Homo sapiens: one gene and its partner. The protein of the gene in region 2 interacts with the protein of the main gene of each other region in a pairwise test. Each region holds a gene or a part of one and is shown on either strand. Other genes may lie near its edges. The genes, in order: TPTEP2-CSNK1E and PER2.

Region 1 (4,510 bases), on a different chromosome or scaffold from region 2:
GTCTCCAGAATATTGAACAAAACAATATCTAAAATAAATATGACTTCTCAGAAGGAAAAAAGTTATCTACCATTAAGGACATACCTTAAAAGTTCTTAGCACACATTAAGTAAGCACAAACTAGTGGCTTGCCTGTTATATTTTCAGACAAAAAGCAATGAGGTTATTCCTCTGCACTTGTCACTGCAGACACATAAAGGCTTTTAGAAACTACATCTATTACTCATTGTCTAAGTATCATAAAACTTAGCATTTTAAGTCTTGTTTGATATCAATCAAGAAAGAACATCCACTTCAGGGGAAAGAAGTACAGTAAAATAAGAACATTGTAAATGTCCCTCTTGACATATACAAAAGAGAAGGTAAAAGGCCTCCTAAGACCCCTACCTAGTGGCCAGGCCTGGACGGCAGCTGTTGCTACCTCACCTTTTCTTTTGTTGAGCTTAATCTCATGTCAAGTCATTCAACCAACTCAAAAGCGATGAAGACATTATTGAATCAATCTGAACTAAATCAGACCTAGGCTTCTTAAAACATACAGCTTAATGCTTCCAAACGATCTAGAAAACTAAGAAACCTAGCTACGCTGTAGGACACACTTTCATATGCGTCCGTGTGAAGAGACCACCAAACAGGCTTTGTGTGAGCAACATGGCTGTTTATTTCACCTGGGTGCAGGCGGGCTGAGTCCGAAAAGAGTCAGCAAAGGGAGATGGGGTGGGGCCATTTTATAGGATTTGGGAAGGTAATGGAAAATTACAGTCAAAGGGGGTTGTTCTCTGGTGGGCAGGGGTGGATCTCACAAAGTACATTCTCAAGGGTGGGGAGAATTACAAACAACCTTCTTAAGGGTTGGGGTCACGGCACCAAATTTCATACACGTCCGTGTGAAGAGACCACCAAACAAGCTTTGTGTGAGCAATGGCCTGGCCTGGGCTCAGAGGCCTGACACACACAGTGGCCAATTATACAGGACCCCCAAACTGGCCAGTGGACCACTGCAACCGCCATTTACTTTCTCCGCTGCAAGCACCATAGGCTGATTCAGGAAGATAAACTGAGGCTCAAGGAATTTCGAAGTGGAACAATACACCAAAGCCTTAAACCTGAAATGACTATCCTTTTCTGGGGGGTGGGGGGGAAAGAAAAAGAAAAAAAAGTTTCTGGGGCTCTCAGGGTGGCCCAGATGCCAGGGTCCCAGAAGTGGCCTTTTCTAGCTCCTGTAACTAAACCTGGCGGAAAACTCCCCGCCTGCTCACCCCATCCGCCCAAGAATGCGCCTTCCCGTCTTCGGTGGCCCTACCCAGAATCCCAAAATGTGGATTCCAACCCAGGCCCTGAACGTCTTCTCAAATCCCCGGGACTTACGTTGCGGCGCGCGCCCCGCTGTCGGGTCTTGCCCCTCGGGCGGTACCGCCCAGGCAGCCCTAAATCCAGCCTCCCAGGCCCCCAGCAGCGCCCTCCGCCCCTCCACCATCCCGTCCGGCTCGCAGTCGGGGCCAAATCGAGAGACAAGAGGGCTGTGCCTGAAACTGAGCGGTTTCACCACTTGGCACCTCCTGGCAGAAACTTCCCTTTAAAAAAAGAAAAGAAAAAAAAAAAAAGCAGCAGCACTTTTGGGCTAGCATTTCAATCCTTCCTGCCCTTTAGAGTTCCCAGTTCTGCTTCCAGCTGCCTTTGGGTGTTCCACTACAATTGAGTTGTAAAGATATTCTTTAAGTGTTTATAGAACATTAAGACTTAAGAAAAATCTTTAAAATTAGAGGAGGGAAAAAAAAGCCACCTTATCGCACACATCCAGGAAACGCAGCCCCGTGCATCCCTGCTCAGGGATAAGCAGGCGCCCCAGGACTCCCGGGGACAGATTTTTGGGCACCCGAGGGAGTCACCCGGCGCACCTCGGGGTCCGCGGAGAGGCCCAGCCCCTCCCGCGGTCCCTTAGACGCGCCCTCCGCCTGGCCCGTGTGGACCGTCCCGGCCATTGTTTACGGGGGAAGCCTGTCCCGACGCATTGTTTTGGCCATTTCCAACTTCCCCCGGCCCTTCCCGGGGTATCGCGGGGGACCCTACGCCAACGTCCCCCCTCCGCCCGCGCCCCAAGGGCCGACTGGGCAAATTGGGAGACCCGCCCCGCGGGGCGACCCAACTTTTCGGAACAGCCCCCCACCGCCCACCCCCGCAGACCCCCGGACCCCCGCTCCCGGCGGAGATTCAGGGAACCCCGCACCCCAAGCCCTTCTGAATCGTGCGGCGTGAGTGTGACGGCCAAGAGCGGATGCAGCCCGGGATCGCCCGCACCTTCCCGCCAGCGGAAGCGCAGGAGCCGGCTGGGGAGGGGGCGCCCTAGAAAGAGCAGCTAGAAAGCTGAGACGGGGAACTGAGGTCATCCTGGGGGGGGACAAGACAACGAGAGCCGGGCGCCTCGGGGGCGGCGCGGGAGCCTCCGCAGGACCAGGCGGGCGCCCCGGCTGGCGCGGGCGGGGGGCGCCCCCCTTTACCTGTGGCTCCGGCCCCTCGGCCATTTCCTCGCGCGGCGGCTGCCGGGACTGAGCTGACTCCACTCGGGCCGGCCGGGTTTGAAAGAGGAGGAGCGGGCGCGGAGGGGAGGGGGCGGGGAGGGCGGAGGGAGGGAGGCCTCGCGCAGTTTTCTCGGCCTTTTGTGCGGACACCTCCCGGATTCCGCGCCCGCACCCGGCCCCCCAAAAGACACGGGGAGCCGCAAGCGAGGGGTGCAGCCATCTGCCGAGGCGCCTAGTGCCTTCGCGCCTCCAAGACCCCCAACAAAAAAGGAGCGTCCCGCACCCCCACCCCCGCCCGGAGGATTTAGGGGCCGGGCTCACCTCGGGCGCGGGGCTAAGTGCAGGCGCGGGGGGGGTCCCTAGAGCCGCCAGGGCGCGGCGCGTCCGGCGCTGGGGGACTGTTGGGTCAGAAAGTGTTCAGGGAGCAGCTGCTGCGCCCTCCCTCGGCCCGCCGCTCGGAGACGCCCCGCCCCGCCCCACCCCGCCCCCGCGCCCACGTGACTAGCATAGGCCCGCCCCCGCTCCGCCCCCCGCCACAGACTCCGCCTCCGGGACGCGAGCGAGCGGCGAGCGCGCGCACTCCCAGTTATCGCTCGGCGACTCCCGCGCACGCACGCGCCGTGCCACCCTCCCCGCGCCCCCCGCCCCATACCCCTACTCCCGCCATCCGATTTAACGTGGCGGGCGAGCGCCGCGGCGGTAGCCGTGACAGGTACCCGGCGGGGGGGGCGGGGGGGGCCGCGAGGGTGTGCGCAGGCGCAGACCCGGGTCCCGTCCCCGCCGCCCCCTCCTCTGCAAGGTGTGCCCGGGCGAGGGGAGGGGCCCGCGGCCCGAACTCCTGGGTCACCCCGAATTACAAACAAAACCTTAACGCCGTTGCTCGCGGGTTAGAAGGCAGCTGTGCGCGAAAAACACCTCAGATTTTCTTCAAGCGTGAGGAAGGTCGAGAAGATAAAGTTTTTAAATGAGTATCTTCAGAAAGCTATTTAATTGTTCTGATTTTTTTTTTTCTGAAAGGACTGGGCTTGCGCTATTCTAACTTGAGATTTCTAAACTTAGACTAGGTTCCAAGAATCTACTTGGTTTTGATAGAAATCCATTTGGAGGAAACCGGGGACAAAAAAAAACAAAAAACCGCTACCCTTTCCCCTCCTCCCTACGCACAACTCATTTAAATCGTTTCCCAACTGTTTTTTTTTTCTTACTGAAAAAAAGGACAAAAAAAATCCTGATTCCTAAGGCCTGTGATATTTCCCCATTTTAAGTAAGCCTCGAGGAACCACAGACATAACAAACATATCCACAATTTTTCTACCCCAAAATGCAAACTAATGCAAATGTGAAATGGATCTATGCAAGTCGCTACCAACAAAATAGCCAAATATTTGTTTTTTTACTGGCCTTCGGCATATCCAAAATGAAAAAACTTTAAAACACATCAAGAAAAGCATTTAAAATATCTATTTCCTAAATCAAAAGAAAGAACGCACTACAGAAACGATCCGGAGCTGGTGAGCAATGCAATCTTAATAAATAGGAAAAGGAATTTGAGAAGACAGCTCAGCAAAGGGGAAGAATTTGCCAAGTGTCATGTTTTGCTGTCATTTTATATATAACTACTAACCCCCCATATGGTCTGGTTAGTCTTTTTTAAAAAGGAAGCCAATCAATTACTCACAATTAATTAGCAGTGCCGGTAGATTCTTAGGCCAGCACTAAAAAACTAAATTGGGTGAATTTTTTTTCACTCAAGTCCACTGATATTGATCACTTTTAGTATTAGGAGTCCTTTTCTGACAAAAGATGAATACCTATCTTTAAAATATATTTTTTAATCTTATTGTCACATTCTAAAACACAGTCCAAAAACACTTCATAAACAAGAAACTTCATTTAACTTTATGAAAACAAATGACTATGAGCCTTGCTACACAACAAAGAAACTATGAACAAGTGCAACCAGGTTGAGCCTTTAAGTGTAGCCTCATTCT
Region 2 (3,802 bases):
ACGGCTCTCCTCCGGCGTGAGTCCTCATGGCCGTTGCTGTCGCTGGAGGAGGTCTGGCTCATAAGGTGCTCGTGGGACCCGTTGCTGCCCAGACTCCCGTAGCCACTGGAGCCGCTGTGGGGGACGGGCTGGGGAGACAGCAGACAGCGCTACAGACACAGCCAGGGCTGCTGAGCTATGCATGTGGCCCCCTGCCAACACACCCTGTTTCGCAGAGAGGATGGCGACCCGCCTAAGGCTACATGGCAGAGACCAGGGGAGCTGAGGTTTGAACCCCAGGGTCAGCTCCAGAGGTAGACTCCTGGCCTCCAGCCGCGGTGCCCCGACCCAGACATGCAGTCACCGAGGAGACGGCACCAAAGGAATGTGTCCAACCCGCTCATCAACGCATGGCTGCAGCCAGCCACGCCTCTGTGGATGGGTTTAAAACAAACAAGATGCGATGACAGCTTCACTCCACAGTCTCCGGGAACTGACAGGCAGGCGCCTACTCAGGTGTGGGGTTGACTGCAGTGGGCCTGATTTTTTTTAGGGACCTTGAGTACAATGTCCCTCCCTTAAGTCCCACTGCTCTGGATTAGAATGAGCCCCCGCACCACTGAGAGGTCACTCTGGAACTATGCAGCCTGTGTCAGAGCACGGGGTCTGCACACGTCCTTCAGCTACTCACTCAGGGCTGCAGTTCAGACAAGGTCGAATGCAAGGCTGGAGAGAGCCAAGGGTACTATGGACTGTCTCGGACTAGCACAGTCTATGCCCAAACTGTCCCCTGGGGGATGTTCAGAGAATGACAGATGAAGCTGTCTGAGTGGGTGTGCCAGGACCAGGGTTCAGAGCCTATGTCCTCTGCAGGGGGCTCTCAGGCTGCTACCTGGGAGGAGGACATGCAGGCACCACACCCACCTGCAGCAGGAGCCGGTGGATCTGCTCTGTGAGCTCCTGAATGCTGGGGTGCAGGGCCTTCTCCTCTGTGCAGGGGTGGGCTGCAAACACGTCCTCATTCAAAGGGCCCCTGCGTGGTTTTAATTCATCTTGTTAGATGGGGCCCCACAGGAGGACCTCTCTGGCGTGACTGTATAGCCACTACATGCTGCCTGCCTGGGTGGGCCCTCTGCCTCTCCCCTGCAGCCCCCCAGGCTGCTGCCTGTCCACTCCCTACTCTGCTTGAATGAGGTCCCTCCCACTTGGGGGCAGAGGACAGGTCACCCCTGCCTAGCAGTCTGGGGCTCCAGATTGGTGGCAGGAAGCAAGGTTTCGGTCTTGGCCTCTCAGCCCCTCCCTATGCCATCTGTTGCTGGGAGGTGAGGACAGCCCGAGACCCCCGCCCAAGACCCCTGAGCCACCTCGGGCCCTTGGAGCACTCACACCCTGACTTTGTGCCTCCCAATGATGAAGGAGATTTTCCTGCTCCATGGGTTGATGAAGCTGGACCAGCTGGTGTCCAACGTGATGTACTCTCCGTTCCGGGCGCGAAACCGAATGGGAGAATAGTCGAAAGGCTGCCCGCCTGACTGCAGGACTAGGAGAGCAAAAGCCAGCATTCAGGGGAAAAGGGGAGCAAACAGGATTTATAGTAGAGAGAGACAAGTCAAGAGTCACTCAGGCCCAGGATCATTTGCAAACTGTAGGGGTATGAACACTTCTTCAAAGCCACTGCTTTCAACCTCCTGTTTTTGCTGTAGATTACCAGGAGGCTGTTTCCAGCAGGAGCTGTTTCATCCCATGTTTCACCTCTGCTAGTGTCACTTGCATCTATGAGGGCTGGGCTTGGTGAGGACATGCACTGTGCACTCCCCTGGCCTGGTGAGAACCTTCCTAGCCACAGATGAACTGGTCTCCCCTCCTCCCATGCGCCACTGAAGCCAACAGTAAACATAAGATGCTACGGACTCAGGCCACGGACTGAGAAACAACTGGCCACAAAGGAACTCACATGAGTTTACCCCTCTCTCTCGACTCCACTGGGCACTGCAGTGCCAGGAGGGAGGCGGCGAGGCGGGCGTCTACCACCTGCTTGTCCTTAGCTGATCTGACCTGTCAGAGCTAGACTGGTCCCAAGAAGCAGCCCCAAGGACACAGGAACTTCCGCCAAACACTTCAGGATGTACCATGAAAAGGGGACCTACTCTTTTTGTGGATGGCCAGCATCAAGGGCCTGTCACTAGGGTGGAGCTGCACGAGCACTGGGGTTTCAATCAGGTCCTGAGGTAGGTAGCCCAGGAGAGGGACCGCCCTGGAAGGCAAGCAGACACACGCTAGGATTGGCATCCAAACAGATGAGGAGATTGTCACTAAGAACCATCTTATTCCCTGGAAAGAGAAGATACACTCCAAACCCCACCCCCTCCCCCACCCCCGGAGATCAAAAGTTGGACTAACAGAACCAGCTAGACTTTTAATCAATAGCAAACGAAGGTTCACTGTCCAGGACGCTGAAGGAGGCTCCCTCTGCTGGGGCCTGAGTGCTTCAGCTCTGCGTTTCACCTCCCAAGAGATAAGTCATGATCATGCTTTTGTTTTCTTCCTTCCAGCATCTTTTTCTTTTTCAGTGTCATTCATTAGTTTGGCCACATGTGACCTGGCATGGATTTTTGCTTAACAAGTTTTGCCTGGGCCTCGGAAAACCCTTTGTATGTGCTTCTTTTCCAGCCTGGTCTCGTGTGACTTTGGCCTCAGCATCCAGTTGGTTTACTGTGGCTTCTTTGGAGTCTCGGTGGCTGGCTGGGCCTCTGCCCTTTGAGCTCATGCCTCCTCCCAGAGCTGTGGCTTTGCTCCATTGCAGGACGGAGCTGAACTTCAGCAGCACCTTCTGCTTCTGTTTGTGTCCAGCGCCCTCTGCCGGCTCCACCGACCATTTCTTCTCCCGATCTGCCTCTTAACACTTGTTGCATCCAAACCAATGTTTCCTCAAACTCTGCTGCTTGTGTAGAAGGATTTTCCCTGTGAATCTTTAGACCATGGTGCAGAACTTTCTCAAGGGCCTGGCGTTATTCTTTGATTTCCTCCTTCTTGTCTGAGGCTCTCTCTTCAGGCCTCATGTTTTCCTTTGGACAGGATATACAGAATGTTCCTGGCATCCGTCCCATCAAGGCCTTGCTGAAGGAGGAAGAAGAGGAAGGAAGAGGAGAGGAGTGGGGGAACAGGAAGGAAAAAGAGGGGGAGGAGGAAGAGGAGGGAGCAGAAAGGGGGTGGAGGGTGAAAAGAAGGAGGGGAGGAGGAGGGGGAGCCCTGGCTGTCCTTGGGCTTTGTGAGCCAGGCCACACACAAGGCTTCATCAAGGAGAGCTTGCAGGCTGTGGCCCATCATGCCAGGTGAACCTGTCTGCCAACCTCCCTGCACAGGGCTGAGCTGGACACCAAGTTGGCATGGGAGTGGGTTAGAGACAGTTCTCAGATCTCTGAAGGAAGAAAAGTCTCCAGAGGCTGCTTTACATATACGGCCCCAGGCCCTGCCCTCCAAGATCCTGGTTCCACAGGGCAGGGTGGTGTCCAGAAGCCTGCATCTGCAAACTGGCTCTGCCCCAGGCAGCCCCGCGGACACACCTGAGCCACCTGGAGCTGGAAGTGACGGATCCCTTTTTACCCATAGAGCCTCCCCAGGAAGCTGTGTGGCCCTGACTCCAAGGATGGGGGCCTGTGTCCCTGGGCCAAGAGTAGAGGAGGGAGAGGTCTTGATCCTCCAGCTTCTAGGTGACCTGGTTCATTTTAGGAACCCAGCACACTGGTGCTTCTTGGTCCACTTCCTGTGGTATCTTCTGAGGTCACTTTTCGGTGACTACTGCCAGTGGCCCACACATTTTTTT

What was found.
Region 1: the proteins of PER2 (region 2) and TPTEP2-CSNK1E interact in a two-hybrid assay, tested with the Homo sapiens proteins (one large-scale study listed by BioGRID).

What each region holds. Positions count from the first base shown.
Region 1 is NC_000022.11:38,395,940-38,400,449, forward strand, and holds the start of TPTEP2-CSNK1E (casein kinase I), read right to left. Parts: upstream 2,977-4,510; 5' UTR 2,499-2,976; intron 1-2,498.
Region 2 is NC_000002.12:238,260,826-238,264,627, forward strand, and holds part of PER2 (period circadian protein homolog 2), read right to left. Parts: intron 2,234-3,802; coding exon 2,127-2,233; intron 1,520-2,126; coding exon 1,366-1,519; intron 1,013-1,365; coding exon 904-1,012; intron 129-903; coding exon 3-128; intron 1-2. UniProt on the Homo sapiens protein: Transcriptional repressor which forms a core component of the circadian clock.